2 separate regions of the Homo sapiens genome follow, and region 2 is linked to region 1. The links come from fine-mapping of genetic effects on gene expression. A gene starts in region 1. The other region holds a variant in brackets. All regions are shown on one strand. Distances are from middle to middle.

Region 1 (8,290 bases):
ACTGCAATCTATGGGGCTTAGCAGACACATTGATATCACCAGCACAGGGCCAAACCAGCCACCTCCCCAAGACGTGGCCTTTAGTTTTCTGCCCACGACCAAAACAGCAGCAGCTGTTGCCAAGGGACACAAGGTGACCCAGAGGCGTGGGCACAAAATCCAAGGATGAAAATCCATTTTGTCTGGATCCACCCAAGCAACTGGGTTTCCCTAACTGAAAAAAAAGATGAAAAAAAAAATCTACTTTTGTATTCAGTCCTATCCAGGCAGGCAGAAGATGCCTCAGTCCTAACAAAGTCACGAGAAGGCCACAGGGCAGGTTGGCTTGAACTCTCAGAATCATCCAAAGCGTTCACACGTCTTAGGCTTCCAAAGTCTCAGCAGGACTTTGGAAGAGGAAAAGGCAGGCCAAAGGTATGGCCCCACAGAGGACAAACTCCTACCAAGGCAAGGGAAAGCAAGGCCTCTCTGCCAAGCTATCACCAGCCCAAAGATTAAAGAAGCAACCGCACATACAAAGATCCACAGGGCCCTCCCCAAGCTAACACAGCTTTAGCATTCAGCAAAGAATGTATTCAGGATCTTCAAAGTATAAAGCAGCATGGGGCAGCAGAAAGAGCACATTCAGGCAGAACCCCATGTCTATGACTCAAGCCTTTTCACCTCTCTCTTTTAAGGTTTCCTCTGCTTTAAAAATGTGATAATCTTAAGCCTAACAACCTTATCTACTTTCCATGGCTGGTTGCTTGCTTGCTTTCTGTCTTTTTTTGAGGACCTCAGAAAACCATGTGAAAGTGCTTTGTAAACTGTGAAACACTTTTCACAGCTGCCTGTTTTACAATTGATACCACTTTTTTTCTTCTGTTTCAATACATAAAGCACTTGTCTTCAATGCACCCAGGCAGATAAGGAGAAGGTAGGTTTGGCAGACCCCTCCCCAGAAAGAGAAGTAGCATACTCACCCACTCTACCCTAGCCACCCCCACGGAAGGAATACAGAAGAATTAACAACCAGAGCTGGAACCAAATCCCAGGTCTCTCTGACCATCACATCACACCACCTCCTCTGAAGTCAATTCTGGCTCCCGATCACACGCCCAGAGACTTCCCCAGACAGCACACCGCCTTCCCTCCCCCTTTATTGACTGGATCCACCCAGTTAAAAAAAATTTAAGTCCGCACTCCCACCATATGTGGCATTTATTTCCAGGGGAGGCCTGCCCTCGGTTCCCGTGGACAGATGTTGCTTTGTGCCTGCCTGACTCGCCTGGCAGCCCCTGTACAACTGCCCCAAGCAGGTGGCCAAGGATGGAGTCCACCCTGGCCCAGGAGCAGGGATGACAATCCCTTTGCGGCTGACAGTCCCTGGTGCTTTCTACTCATTCCTCGGCAGCCTGGGACCCCCAAAAGAGCCAGCCCCCAACACACACGCTCTCTCCCTTGGTTCAGCATCAAAGGAGGCTGAGAGGTAGAGACAGGAAGCCAAGGTACCCGCACCCCCAGTTCCCAGCCAGGCACATCTAAGCTAAGGAAGGCCCTGGGGGAGTGAAGTCACTGACCCCTTCTATCAGCCATCTGTGGGCTCCCGCCCGACCTAGCTAGCGCGCAACGGGAAGGATAAAGGAGATCCAGACAGATGGCAGCGCGCTTTGGGAAGGAAGGCTCTACAGGAATGCGAGGGCCGATGCGAGGCCCACTTTGGGGTGTGTTTTGTTATCTGCCCGGCTGCAGCCTGCCCCTCTCCCTCGTTCTGCACGGTTTCAAAATCTCTTGGACCAAAAGAAGGGCAAAAGAGTCGGGATGGGGGGGTGGGAGGTGGGAGAAGACCCTATTTTCCGCCACTTGTCTCTCCCATTTGGAAGTCAGAGCATTGCACTGCAACCAAAGTGCGTGCATGCTCAGGGGGCGGGAGACTGGCACAACCGAGTCTAAAAATACTCGATAAAAATGCTAATCCCGAAGGCAAAGAAAGAACGAAGAAGGAATCTGTCAATCACTAGGCTCCCGCTCCTCACCCACAGCCCCAGCTGTACGGACCGCATTCCTGTAGAGGAAAGTGGGGAGACCCGACTGAAGAAAAGAAACGCAAAGACACCACCACCTCCACGAGCGCGGGCCGCGGGGGCGGGAGGCGGCGGCGGAGGAGGGGCTCCGGCCCGCGGAGCCGAACAAAGCGGGCCTCAACTTCCAGCCCCAGCTCCCCGGAGTGGGGGCGGCCGAGTCCCGCAGCAACCCGCTCTCCCCTCCCGGAGGTGGAAAGGGAATGTGAGGTGTGGAAGCCAGAGTGCCGCGTGGAAGCCTCGGGCTCTGATCTTTGCAAATCAGAGATGGTTTTGTTTGGGGTCCCCCCACCCCCTTCCTGCCCGCGCTCTCCCACTCTCACACACACGCACCCACACAGTCTCACTCCCTCCCTCTCTCTCCCTCTTCCCATCTCCAGCCCCACTGGGTCGGCCCCGCAGTGCCAGGGGGCTGGGCCGGCGTGACCCCGGGTCCCCCCCGGGCGGGCCCCCACCTGGGGATGGTGATGCACTTGGTGTTGACGTTCTGCGTGGTGATGGCCTTCTCCAGCTCGTCCAGCTGCCCCGTCTTCTTGAGTTTCTTGACCAGGCTCTTGACCGCCTTCTCGCACCATTTCTCCTCCTGCCCGTTCTGCTCGCCCTTCTTCCAGCCCAGCAGGCGCTTCACGATCGGGGGAGTGAAAGGCAGGATGGACGACATGGCTGGGGAGGGCGCGCGGGCGGCGAGGAGCGCCCCCGGCGGGGCTGGGCTCGACGGGACGCCGGGGGCGCAGAGGGGAGCTCGGCCGGGGCCTGCCGCGGTCGCCCAAACTTCGCCTCAACTCTCGGCGAAGTTGCCGGGGCGCCGGGCCGGGCCGCGGCGCTGCAGCCTGCGGGGCTCGGCGCGCGGCCCTGCGCCCGGAGCGGCTCCCACGGCGAAGAGAAGAGCGGCCGGGCGGGCGGACGGCAGCAGTGCAGGGTCGGGAAGGCCCCGAACGCGGGGCGGAGGCGGCGGCCGCGAGACTCCAAGTGGCAGCAGAAGTTTGGGTTTCCGCACGGGGTAGCTGTTTGGGTGCCGCCTCCGGGAAGGAAAGTCCAACCCCCGGCCAAACTTCGCTCGCCTCGCTAGCTTTGATGCGCAGATCCCTCCGCCTCTGCGGCCTCACCGCCCCGCCACCCTCCTCCTCCCGGCTCGCCGCTCGCTCGCTCGCTGGCTGGGCCGGCCCGGGGCGTGCGCCGCGCTCCCGCTCCCGCCCGCTCCCAGTCTGTGTTTCATGCAAATCCGCGTGCAGCCTCCTTTCCAAGTGCTGTCACCGCCCCCTCGCCGCCGGGGCTCCCCGCCTCCTCCCCCGCGCCCCGCCACCTCCTCCCGCGGGCGCCCTGCCCGCCCCCTGCTCCGGGGAGGGCGCCCGGCCGGCCACCACCCCGCGCCCAGCACGCCCACGTGGGCGACCCGGGCGGCGGCAGTCCTGGCTGGAGCGCGCGGGACCCTGCGCGGCCCCGACCTGAAGTCGGGCGGGCGCGGGGAGGAAGTCCTGGGAAACACGGCGAGAGGGGCCTCGGGCGGGAGGGCTGAGCGCGGCCCGTGGCGTCCGCTCTCGGAGTCCACACTCGGGCGGCTCGGTTGGAGTTGCGGGCCGGAGAGGGTTGGACTCGCAGCAAGTAAGCGTCGTCCGGACGCGAGTGCACCCTGGAGAGGACCCGAGCCCGAGAGGGGGCGCGCGGAAGGCCCGGGCCCAGGAAGTTGGGGCCCGCACTTGGCCTCGCGCTTGCTGATCCCCGTCAAGGCCCTTGGCCGGCGCCGGCGCCCCTGGGCTGTTTTTATTCTCTAGTCGGTGAGATCACACCGGCCGAGAGCCTCGGGAACGTGTGCGGAGGAGGAGGGGGTGAGAAGTGGGTCCTCAGAAGTGGAGAGCTGGGGACACCAGTGACAACCTGGACAATGGCTGGAGCCAGGGGTCTCTTGAGCCTTGTGAACCGAGTGCCCGGCAGAAAATGAGCCTCAAGGACATCTGTTGAGTTCTTGAAGGAATGAATGGAGGGGCTTTCGAATTTATCTTTGAAAGAAATTTACATAACAGGGTGTTTGTTGCTGGATCTCCTGATAGAGAAGGATCGGAAATTTGATAATTGCCAATAAATGGAAGAGAGTTTTGTTTCCAAAGCAATGAACTCACAAAAAAGTGGGGCAAGACAGGAGTTTTCGGAGAGTTTGTGTATTCAAAAAAAGCAAAACAACAACAAACCAATTGGCACATTGGGGAGCTCCGCGGCTTTTCTCCCCACCAAAAGAATTCAGGGGCGTCTGCCCGCAGGGCCCTCGGCGGTTTTCAGGAGCTACTCCAGGCCCCTCGGCCTTTCTCTTGCTGCCTCCCGCAGCCGACTAGCCGGTGTCTAAGCCCTTTGTTTGTTTTTAACAGCAGGAATCTCCCACCCCCACCCCTGCTTTGTTAAAAAAAAAAAGTTATCTGGAACCCTCAAGTGGGTGGGGAGTTACAAAGCCCTGTGAGGTGTGGCGGAATCCACAGTCAGCCCAGAAGCGGCAGGGGCCCTTGCCTTGCTCCGGAGAACCGCCTCCCACAAGCCAATCCGCAGCTGCTGCTGCAGAAGTGCGCTGTGCTCCTCACCCTCCTCTCTTCCTAAATACCCGCCTGAAAAGGAGAATACGTGAAAGCCAACTGAGGCTTGACAACCTGGCTTCCGTTCCTTGCTGGTCCTCCTGTTAACGCGCTGCCGCTGTGGTCTTAGGTTTCACTCTCCTCTTCCCGTCCGTCAAGAGAGACAAGGATGACACAATCCACATTTATTGATTGCTTTCTTCATTCCGGGTAGTCCGCCTGCTGCCCTTTGATTCAGTCTTAACAGTGGTTGGTGAGGTAGATGTTCCTGTGCCTCACGTTTACGGAGGCACAGAGAGATTACATTACTTACTCAGGGTTCCAAGTGGCAGAGCTGGAATTTGAACCCAATACTTTGTTGAAGCCTCAGTCTCCGATCTTGAGACTGCACCCAGCTGCCTGGGTCACGGAAGGCAAAGATGACATCATTGATCGAGCTCTTTGCAAAACAGTTCTCTACACGGGCACACTGTTGTAACACTGCAAGGATTATTTGCTCACCTGTAAAATGGGGCTAGAGGTAGCTTCCCTCGCGATCTCCTAGGGTGGCTGTGGGAAGCTCATGTGAAAAGGTTTGCATTGCTAATGCCATGAAAAGTGGTGGAGGGAGGTCAAATAAGTTTAACACACATTGACGGAGCAGCTCTGAGTTGCAGCCCTCCTATTCAGTTCCTGAACTTCCAAAATAAAAGACTAAGGTTTTCAAGGCGTTCACAGCCTAGAGAAGCATCAAAGGGTGGGGATGAGGATGATGTGACTGAGTGGGCAAAGATGGGCAGGGGCCTTGCAGTCATCATCGTCCAGTAAAGTGTTAATCTTAACCTGAACAAGTCCAACCATTGAGAGGTAGCCAAAGAAAGTAAGAGGGGCTCAGGATCCATCAGTGACTGGCCTGGCTTCCAATCCCGGCTCTTTCTCTTCTTCCCCTTGGGCAGCGTCCGTTCTCTCCGCTGTAAGAATGGAGCAAGCGGTTCTCACTGTGCAGAGTGGTGGATCCAGAAAGAGCATTGTAACTGTCCTCCTGTAGTTCAAGTCCTTTATGTTACAGAGAGAGCAATGTCTGCTGAAGGAGAGTGATTTGCACTGTAGAGGAAGAGCGTCAGAGAGATTTGAGGATTACATGTAGTAGAAGGACCTGACAGGTACTTCACCCTGTAAAATCATGGTATGGGAAGGGGCCCTCATTCAGCCCTCTCATTTTCCTGAGGGGAGGAAATAACTAGGCAGCCAGCTAGTTAGTGTGGCAGAACCATGCTTCCCTGCTGGCATCCGTGTGACAAGAACAGCTGTGCATGCAGAAAAATAGTGCTGGACCCACCTACAAGTCTAATAAGTGCCATTTCTGGGCTAGTTCTTTCTCCTCAGGCCTGTTTCTCCAAGAGAAGTCCCTCCACTGGGGGACTAAGTCCAGTTTCAGAAAGCTCTGAGGAGGGCTGAGGAACTGATTCTTCCAGTGCTGAGAAGACCCTGCATGTTCTCTTGATCTTGACTTTGGGCAGTGAATGGGTGGGCTGCTCTGGATGGGTACAACTCTGTTCTGGCACCTGGTCTTTTGGGGCCCAGCCATACCTGCTTTTGCAGAGGTTGTCCTTGGGAGGGAAACATTAGCCCAGTTAATTTTTCACCATGGTAAGTGCAAAGTTCAGGAGAGGTGGGATGGAAGTGGAGACAGCAACTGTTTCCCTGGGAATAGTCCATCCTATGAACAGTTCACCTCGTGAATAGACACATCAGAGGGTTTTCGTGTATTTGGAGTGGCTCCCAGGTAGGCCAGCCACTCCAAATACACGAAAGAAACAAACACCTGACTTCAATTCTGATTATTTTCCCATTAGCTTAAGGGTATTTAATCAACAAGTAGTGAATCTAGAAAAAGCATTAAAATCATCTTCATCTTACACAGACAGAAAGTGATGTCTGTAAGGGAAGGTGATTTGCACTGTGAAGATAAGTAGCCAAATCAGGACTAGAACTTTTATCAGAGTGCCCTCACCTAAGAGAGAGCCTCTGTCTACAGTCAGATCTCTACCTATAGCTCTTTGTAACACCTTACACGTGTGAGCTCTTCTGTGGCACCAGAATGACCTGGGTTAAACTTCTACCTCTTCCACTTCCGGCTGTGTGACTCTGGGCACGTTCCTTAACTCTGTGTGTGTCAGTTTTCTCATCCATAAAATGTGATAATTACAACACCTTCTTAGGATTGCTGTATGGAATCAGATTAAATCATATAGAAAGCTTGGTACAAGCACATAGTAGGTTCTCAATATACATGGATGTGATTCATGCATACTATAAAGTGCTATGCAAAAGTGAGAAGCAATGAATTCCATGTACATAAAACAAATGTATAGATTTTAAACACAGTTCCAACAGAAAATAGTAAGACACAGAGGGAAAGGAATAGCATAATGCTACTATGTAAAACAAATTACATATACACAAAATAATTATATACATTTTGAAAGAAGTTATACAAATAAAAAGATATACATTGAACCACTTCACATCCATTAGGATGGCTATTATCTTTTTTTCTTTGTTTTTGAGATGGAGTTTCGCTCTTGTTGCCCAGGCTGGAGTGCAATGGTGCCATCTTGGCTCACTGCAACCTCCGCCTCCCGGGTTCAAGCAATTCTCCTGCCTCAACCGCCTGAGTAGCTGAGATTACAGGCATGTGCCACCCACGCCTGGCTAATTTTGTATTTTTAGTAGAGACGGGATTTATCCATGTTGGTCAGGCTGGTCTCAAACTCCTGATCTCAGCTGATTCCTCCCACCTTGGCATCCCAAAGTGCTGGGATTACAGGCGTGAGCCACCGCGCCTGGCCAGCTATTCGCTTTTAAAAAACAGAAAATAACATGTTGGAAAGGATGTGAAGAAATTAGAATCCTTGCACATTGCTGGTGAAGATGTGAAGTAGTGCTGCCTCTGAGGAAAATGCTGTGGTGTATGTATGGCAGTTCCTCAAAAAACTGAGCAGAATTACCATATGATCCGGTCATTCTGTTTCTGGGGATATACCCAAAAGAATTGAAAGCAGGGACTACGAGTATTTCCACACCCATGTCCGTAGCAGCCTTATTCACAACAGTCAAAAGGTAGAAGTAACTCAAGTGTCCATCAATGGATGGGTGGAAAAACAAGATGTATTGTAGTCACACAATGGAATTTTTAAATTTTATTTATTTATTTATTTAGAGACAGAGTTTCGCTCTTATTGCCCTGGCTGGAGTGCAGTGGCGCGATCTTGGCTCACTGCAACCTCCACCTCCCAGGTTCAAGTGATTCTCCTGCCTCATCCTCCCTCGTAGCTGGGATTACAGGTATGTGCCACCACACCCAGCTAATTTTGTATTTTTAGTAGAGATGGGGTTTCACCATGTTGGCCAGGGTGGTCTTGAACTCCTGACCTCAGGTGATCTGCCCGCCTCGGCCTCCCAAAGTGCTGGGATTACAGGCATGAGCCGCTGTTCCTGGCCCATACAATGGAATATTATTTAGCTTTAAAAGGAAGGAAATGCTGACACATGATACATTGTGGATGAACCTTGAGAATATTATGCTAAGTGAAATAAACCAGCCACAGAGGAACAAAAATTGTGTGATTCCACTTACAGAAGTACCTAGCATAGTTAAATTCTTAGAGACAGGAAGGAGATAGTGGTTGC
Region 2 (8,324 bases), 30 kb before region 1:
CACATGAATCAACAGGGCGGCAACCACAGAAAGGAGAATTATCATGGGTACTCACAGAGTTGATCCTCGCTCAGGACATACGCTCTGTCCACAGTTTGGGGCAAAAGTCCACATTTGTGAAGCATTTCAGAACACTGTCCCATCTCCATGGGCTGCCTGACCCTCCTCCACACTGGCCCCCTCAGGAACGGAGTCCACCCTCCCATCCATGTATGCCCTCCCACCGTCCCCAAATCCCCCAGCTGAGCAACAGTGGGCCCTCAGACCCCCGCTGGGGATGCGTAGGACCCTCCATGCCCACTTCCACCTGCCTTCCGGGGGCTGTGGAGGCCTCCACAACCAAAGCAAGCCTCCCCAAGTGTCCTGTGGACAGTTCTCTCCCAACTCCCGAAGCTTGTTTTCTTTAATTAGCTCACTGTGGCAGGAGAAAAACGCGGCCCCACCCTCGAAATAAGCAGATCTGGGCCTCAAATGTACTCTGTGGTTTGCCTCTGTGCTGCCAAGCTGTTCGCCAGGGAGTGACAGGCTACCGGGGCTGAGGAGGCAGGGGCAGTAAGAAACCCCTGCTATGTTGAGATAGGCCTTTTTCTTCCTAACATCTGACATTCATTTCTCAACCACAAGCTGGGCTGCACCCTTTCCTGAGTCCCTGAAACCTGCGATTGTGGTTCCAATTAGGGGACGATTCCAAATCCTGCTGGCTTGCTTGCTTGCTTGCTCGCTCGCTCTCTCCCTCCCTCCCTCCCTCCCTCCCTCCTTCCTTCTTTTTTAATCTGTCTTGGGTGGTGGGGTGGGGGGGCAGTTTAGGCACAAAGCCCAATCCTCTCATCTCACAGATGATGAACTGAGGCCCAAACAAAGTAACTGCTTCTTGGAGTCTCTCAGGACAGTAGTGAGCAGCACTTAAAGAAACACTGAAGACTCACCGTGTTAGCTCTTCCTAACACCAGTACTTAAGTTTATAAACGATTTCTCCATATGTCATCTCAGCTGGGTCTCATCCTCTAAGGCAGGCACACCCACGAATGCTCCATTTGACAGATGCGTAAACCAAGGCTTAGTAGGGAATGGACAGTCAAAGGTCATGTGACTAAGAGTGACAGTGTGAGAGGACCAGGATCCTTGAAGACCTTCAAACACTACAATTTTTCTTTCATTCCAGTAACTTCTAGAGCACAGCCTGAAGAACTACTTAGAAGTCTGAGGCAGAGGCTCCCTAGAATCGTACTCACAGAATCTTGGAAGTTAGACCTTGAAGGCCAGGATTCCTAGAGGATACTACTTTTGGTCCTAGCACCCACAGGAATTGTTTCTTCCTCCTCCCCTCATTCTTCACCATCATGACCATTGCTAGCATTGATTCAGTCCCATGGACCAGACACAATGATTACTCCTCCCCCTGCTCTCATTTCACGCTCATGACCATGCTATAAGATAATTACCATTATACCCATTTTATAGATGGGTAAACCAAGGCTCCAGGAGGCTTGAACAACCTGCCCAACATCAAACAACTAGTTAAGAGATGGAGATAAGGCCGGGCGCAGTGGCTCACACCTGTAATCCCGGCACTTTGGGAGGCTGAGGCAGGCAGATAGCCTGAGCTCACAAGTTTGAGACTAGCCTGGGGCAACATAGTGAAACTCTGTTTCTACAAAAAACAACAACAAAAAACAACAACAAAAAAAACATGAAAATTAGCCCAGCATAGAGATGTGTGCCTGTAGTCCCAAGCTACTCAGGAGGCTGAGGTGGGAAGATCGCTTGAGCTGGGAGGTCAAGGCTGCAGTGTGCCAATATCATACCACTGCCTTCCAGCCTGAGTGGTGGAGGAAGAACCTGTCCCCTACAAAAACAAAAAACAAACAAACAAAAAAAACCACAAAAAAAGGACAGAGAGATGGAGATAAGATTTGACCCAAGAATTCAGCCTCCAAGTACCCACATTTTTAACAACTACACTGCAACCAAAAGACTGAGGACTGCCTGATGAAGAAATGACTCACCCAAGGAGACCATGCCTGAGTTAAGAGTCAAACTAGGGCCTCTCTCTCAGCTTACTGCTGGATCACCTCTATACTAGGCTGCCCAAAAATTCACAAAAGTAAATGCTCAGGAGACCCCCAAAGCACCTTCAACAAGAGTATGTTTGTAGCCTCTGAAATTCCTCAACTTTTTATCTCTATCAACAGAGCCACCACCACCTGGAAGCTTGGAATCTTCAGAGCAAGCACACATGCTCACTTGCCTATATGATGCTTCTTAGCTCCGCAACCCAGGAGACAATGTGAGCAGACCAGGGATCTAGAGGCTGCACGTGCAAGACCAGCCTGAGACCTCCAGCCCCAGGATGCCAGTCAGGGTTGGCTGCATAATTTGTGGGGCCCAGTGCAAAATGAAAATATGGAACCCTTTGTGCAAAAGGCAAAAAAAAAAAAAGTATCAATCATGGTACTAAAATAGAAAGCTTTTTCTCTTTCCTCCACAGTCTCTCTCTTGATGTGTCATGGTATTTTTAATTTGCTATTTAATATTATTCTAAGTAAAGCAACATTAAAATTTTAAATTACATGAATTAGCATGAATTTTACCACTCCTATTTATATTGTGTGATGCCAGTTTTAACTGCAAATATAAAAAGCCTTTAACTAGTATGTGGAATCACCAACATTACATGAATTGTATTTTAGGACTTGGATGTGCATTTTGTGATGTACCAGAACCAGAGAAACATCCATAAAGCTAACTCAATCGTTTTTACTTCACTTCTCGCTATGTGTCCATTCTACCTCACTCTTTATGCTGCCTGAGGAGTAAGGAAGATCTGAAAGGAAAAGGCAATATGGGTGCCCTATCTTTCCTTTCCCTTCTTCCGTCATCATTTTCAATATAAGTGGTTGGTGTCAGGGAAGTGACGTGAGTAATAAAGGATATGATGGGGTTCTTTGGTCGTTGATGTTTCTTAGAATGTCATCGCCTTCTTTCTACAACCAAGACAAGTTCCAGTTAGATGGAAAGCATCAGGACTGTCAGGGCCCCTGCTACTCAGTCGCAGATGTGACATCTCACACTCACTTTGACTCTCACTCAACTCCCCCACATTGTAGGTCCGGCAGAAGTCTGTGCTCAAATGCTACATGTGAATGGGGCAGAAGGCTCAATGGGCACATGCTGCCCACATCTCCTCTATCCATGCTCATGCTCCAAAACACTAGGTCAAAGAGAAAATTATTAAGAATTTCAAGATGGGCCGGATGCAGTGGTTTACACCTGTAATCCCAGCACTTTGGGAGCCCAAGGCTGGATCACCTGAGGTCAGGAGTTCGAGACCAGCCTCGCCAACATGGTGAAACCCCACGTCTACTAAAAGAAATACAAAAATTAGCTGGGTGTGGTGGCAGGTGCCTGTAATCCCAGCTACTCGGGAGGCTGAAGCAGGAGAATCACTTGAACCCGCAGGCAGAGGTTACAGAGAGCCGATATTGAGCCATTGCACTCCAGCTTGGGCAACAATAACAAAAAAAAAAAGGATTTCAAGCTGGTGACAGCAGAGCATTAAACCAAGCATAGGGCCCTCCTGAGCATGAACTCTATGTGACTGTACTCGTCACGTGCCCATGAAGATGGCCTTGATGACAGCCACACCTGTGTAAGGACAGGCTCAAGACACACTTCCACAGCCATCCTTCCATTTGCTGGCCAGTTCACCCAAAGCCAAATTAGGTTAGGACCCCACACTCTGAGGCCCTGGGTCTCAGATATGACGGCCAAAGGATCCAATACTGAAACACAAAAAGGATCTGGGTTTAATGCTCACCCACCTCAGGACCAGATGAGCCAGAAGACTTCACTGGCCTTCTTTAACCTTTCTAAGGCTGCCACACTGTGTGACAGCTCCTTTGTCCACCCAGTAAAGCAGGGGAGGTGAGCACGCAGCCATCTTTTGATATGCTTAACACCAAGGGGAGAGGAAGGGACCAACCA[ACCAT/T]TTACCAGCTCACAGCAAGGTGGTAAACACTAAGCAATGCCTTGTACATATGTTGACTCAATCTTACAACCCTAACAGACAGGTAACATTTTACTGCTGGAGAAACTGAGGCTCAGGGAAGTGGCGTGACTTACCCAAGACCTGCCCAGTCAGCTCAGCTGACTTCTCTGGACTTATCCACATCCACGGAGACCCCCTCATGCAGCCCTGCCATCCGCCCAGAGACTGGGTTAAAACTCAAGTGCATTTAATGCAAGAAAAAAGAGTGCAACTCTTGACTCCAAACGCTCTGGAACATCAAGTCAGGAGCACCCTGGAAGGGTCTGATTAAAGGGTTAAAGCAAAGGCTCCTCTGAGACACGTTAAATGTATGTGGCCACATCTTTGCCTACATCAGTGCAGCCCCACGCATTTCCCTAAATGCCTGTAAAGCAGATCTCACATAATTATGATCTTCAGCTCGGCCCTGGCCACATTAGAAGTAATATATATTTATGGAGTGAAAAGCTCAGGTCCTGCCTCTAACACAGTTATTTACACTCATCAGGGCCTGCTCCAGCAGGCCCTGCGTTCCATGTTATCACACCCCGTCCTGCCTGGTCACAGCCCTCTCCTCAGGGTAGCAATTTTGAGCAGAGTTTGAATAAGATTGTCTCGTGCCAAGTCTGCTTTAGAAGGCAGCCAGGTAAATGCCCTCAGCCCTGCTCAGGAGGAGCCACGGGGTGGGATGGTGGGATGAGGGGCCCAGAGCATCAGCTATTCACCCAAAAGCAGGATGAACAGGAGCAGCTGGTTCTCTGGTCCCAGAAGCTTCGCCTCCCATCTTGATGCCACTTCTGGTCACAGCCCTAAGCGTAGGGGAACATCTGATGGTTGGTGGATGGCCACATCTTCTGACTCGCCGAGGTGCAGGCTGACTTCCTGGGTCCCTCACACCACAGGCCACCCCACGCAGGCCTCAGGTGGTCCCACTGCCTGCCCTGAGGACCCCTCCACAGGATTGGTGGTCAAGGGCCTGGAACACTGGAAGTGTGGGCCTGGGAAGCACCGTGGTCACACAAAGAGCCCTAAAACAGAAAATGCAATCCGGGTTCAGATTCCTTGCCTGTGTCCCCTCGGGTAAACCATGTGCCTTCTCAGAGCCTTGGCTTCCTCAGCCATCAACAGGGGGAGGCACCAAATGAGATCAACAAAGACGTCCGCACCACTTCACAGAACTCTGCAGGTGGGGGACAGTCCATCCTCTCATTGGCCCAAGAGGCTTCTTTTAGGTGCTGCCAGAGGCAAGAAGATAGGAACCACCAGCTGCCTTTGCTTCCTTCAGGTAACCGCCTCCCAACCAGTGCTACCTCGCATGCCAACACAGCGCTGCAAGTCAGCAGGCACCCCGACCCAGTTCCTCTTTCCCTTCTTAGCAGCAGCAGCTCTCTGGACTCTGAGGCAAAGTGGGCCTCTGTCTGTCCCCTTGGGATCCAGTTTGCTCACATCCTTCCTCTTAAATGATCTGCGCCTTGGCCACTTCTTGCTAGACTCCCCGCTTGACAGGGCTGCTGGGAAGACTGAGAGAGAGCAAAGTGCACAGACGACCCTAGCTTGCTACCAGTATCATCTGATGCCAGGAGCGTGACAGTCACAATCCAGCCACCCTTCCTACCTCCACTGGCAAATCCTGATTATGCACCCCTGCACTGGCAGTGGAATGAGAGGCTCACCGAGGTGGCGAGGCTGGTGTGGGCCCTGGCAGAGGTGTGGATCCTGAAGGCTTTATATTCACAGGCCCGCTAAGGTGTTCAAGGCAGTTTTTGCGTCCATCATCGCACCTGATTTGCATCAACATAGAGGTTTTACAGATAAGAAAAGTACATCTCAGAGAGGTTAAGGATATGCCCCGGAATACACAGCAAGCTCAGGGAGCCAGGAGTCCTGTCCTGACACCAGGGTTCCTTCCCCTCTAACAAGTGGCTAGACATGAGTGAAAAGATAGTAACTGTAGGGTTAGATGAGCACCATTTACAAAGACAGGGTGAGGAAGGGAAGTTAGACTATAGATTCCAAACTCTCAAGTCCAGTCTTCCTGTTGACTCAAAGCAGGCTACAAGCCTCCTAAGTGTTCATCATTGATTTTCAGACCACACAACTCAGGGATGGGCATGGGGGCCATTTTCCATGATGCAGAAGCTGGCTGTTATTGCCACACCTCCTTCCCCAAAGCTCCAGAAGACCCAACATATATGGAACATCGTGCCTGTTATTACATTTAACCGTCACAGCAACCCCATGATTTGATATTTTTAGCTGTTTAACAGAAGAAAGAAGAAACCCATTAAGAGGTTAAGAGCAAGGGCAGGCTTGGGCCTAAAGGGGCACAGCCCTACCAGTCCTGTGCCTTTTCCGCTACACCACATTCCCCTGGACAAACTCCCTCCACCACTCCTACCCCCAGCACCCTCCTCAGTATCCTGCCCCCAGCTTCCACACGGTGCATCATTGCCTATAATCATGATTGTCAAGCTCAAATGCACATCAGCAGCCCTCGGAGAGTGTACAAAATTCAGACTGCTGGGACCGCCCTCAGGGTTTCTGATCCAAGAGGCCTGGGGGCGGGGCCTGAGACTCTGCATTCCTAGTAAGTTCCCTGGTGATGCTGACGCTGCTGGCCCAGGGCCACACTTTGAGAACTGCTGATTTATAGTAATTTAAAGTGTTCACCTAACAGCTGGGGAATGGTTAAATGCGGTTCATCTACTTGATAAAATATGTGTAATTATGAAAGCCACATATAAGAAAATGCTGATAAAATATAAAATTAGAGCATCAGGCTTGCACCCTGTGCTGGTCCAAGTCCAGTTTGCCCTCTGATCCATCCCTCATCTTCCTGTGCTCTGCTGTGTCCTCCCTGGGGCTGAGCCCTGACTTTCCAGGCTCCAGATCAGGAGGCCTCCAGCAGGGTTTAAATAATAGGAGGCTCTCACAGCAAGTAGTGGGTAGGAGGGAGGGAGAGGCCACAGTGTTTCTCCCCTCTCTCCTTTTCTACCTTGGGTCGGCAATTTTAGAAGCAGCTGCAACTGCTCTAGACAGGCCCACTGGTGACCCCAACCCTGGGCTCTGGGAACACCACCTGTTCCCTTTGTCCCTCCAGCCTAAAGGCAGCGGCTTCCTCCAAGTTCTGGGTCACCTCACCTTCCCATTGTGGCTTCTCAGCTGCTTTATCACCTGTGTAACCAAGGTCCCGTATTAAATTCCCTTTGTGCTAAATACCTGATGTAGTTCCTCCTTCCCGTTTGACTGACACACTGATTACAGCAATAAGCATAAAAATGCTTATGCAAATGGACAATTCTAGAAGGCTATTACCTTCTAGAATTGAGAGCTTGGTAAACTTATGTTTTCTTTCCCCAAAAAACTTTAGAAGAGTGTCAGTTATTATTAATATATAAAACAGACACCAAATGTACAATTTAAGAGGAAACAGAGGTGAGTCTTTACGTGAAAAAGGTTGGGGAACTATGAATCCATGACAATGAATCTAAGGAAACCAATCCCTGTACTTTCATTTCTAAAAACACCTTATTTTGGAGAAACCATGGCCACAGCCACAATGATACAACGGTTTCCCCTGAAAGTACCGGGTGGTTATCTGGGGGTGAGTGACTCACTGGTTGAAGAGGTCACATCATGTATCACCGCAACACCGGATCCTTAGCCACTGCGGAAGGGCAGGCTACTGGCAACACCCCAAACCGCCTTCAGCCATTTGTTACCGTGGAGGCAGGTCCTATCTCTCCTGTCAGGCTCTGGCCTGGAAGCCATCTGGGAAATCCCTCCAGAGGAGACTGGGGCCTGGAGACGGCTGGGGGAGCAGGAATAATACGCAAAGATGTTCAAAGAATAAGGGGACTTGGTTCAGCCATGCCCACCATGCACCATAGCAATGTGTGTGCCAGGGCATGGGCAGGGCAGGGAGGAAGGTGGTATCTTCTTTTTCCACCATTTCGAGGATCTTTCTCTCCAGAGGGCACAATTAAAATCAAAAGAAACAGACTCCATGAAACCAGATGGTAACAATACAATAAATTCTCCTGGATTCCTGCACTGCACTCTAACAGCCCTGAAATAAACAGTTTCCTCCTCGGAGCTCAAGACGCAACCCTGCAGCAGGTAATCAAGTGTTCAAGTAGGGAGGGAGGGGCTTGGCCTTGGACCAAACACAGTTTGGTGGTCTGTTTATAATATTTTAGCTGAAACACTGCAAACAACAGATCGAGAGGCTTACTGCTGTCACGGGTTACTTTCAGACCCAAGTCAAAGCTGATTTAAATCCCCAGAAAACAGGGAG

What was found. PIP is the estimated chance that this variant, and not a neighbour inherited with it, causes the effect.
Region 2: its variant is fine-mapped to the expression of SMAD3 in whole blood (TOPMed, PIP 0.96).

Annotation. Positions count from the first base shown.
Region 1 is chr15:67,060,586-67,068,875 of GRCh38, reverse strand. It overlaps SMAD3 (SMAD family member 3), which reads right to left and starts at 3,274. Exons shown (of 9, transcript NM_005902.4): 1 at 2,516-3,274. The coding sequence starts at 2,721. SMAD3-DT (SMAD3 divergent transcript) reads left to right here and starts at 4,694. Exons shown (of 6, transcript NR_135686.1): 1 at 4,694-5,760. RefSeq lists silencers at 2,058-2,147, 2,168-2,227, 2,478-2,527, 2,678-2,837, 3,008-3,497, enhancers at 1,948-2,716, 4,256-5,026, 6,184-6,328 and a cis regulatory region at 6,250-6,263.
Region 2 is chr15:67,090,756-67,099,079 of GRCh38, reverse strand. The region is part of intron 1 of SMAD3 (SMAD family member 3); the gene reads right to left. Among named protein-coding and RNA genes, the nearest start is that of SMAD3, 29 kb to the right of the region's middle. RefSeq lists enhancers at 346-847, 2,061-2,110, 4,426-5,196, 7,902-7,991. The variant ACCAT/T (reference allele first, on the strand shown) is at 3,985.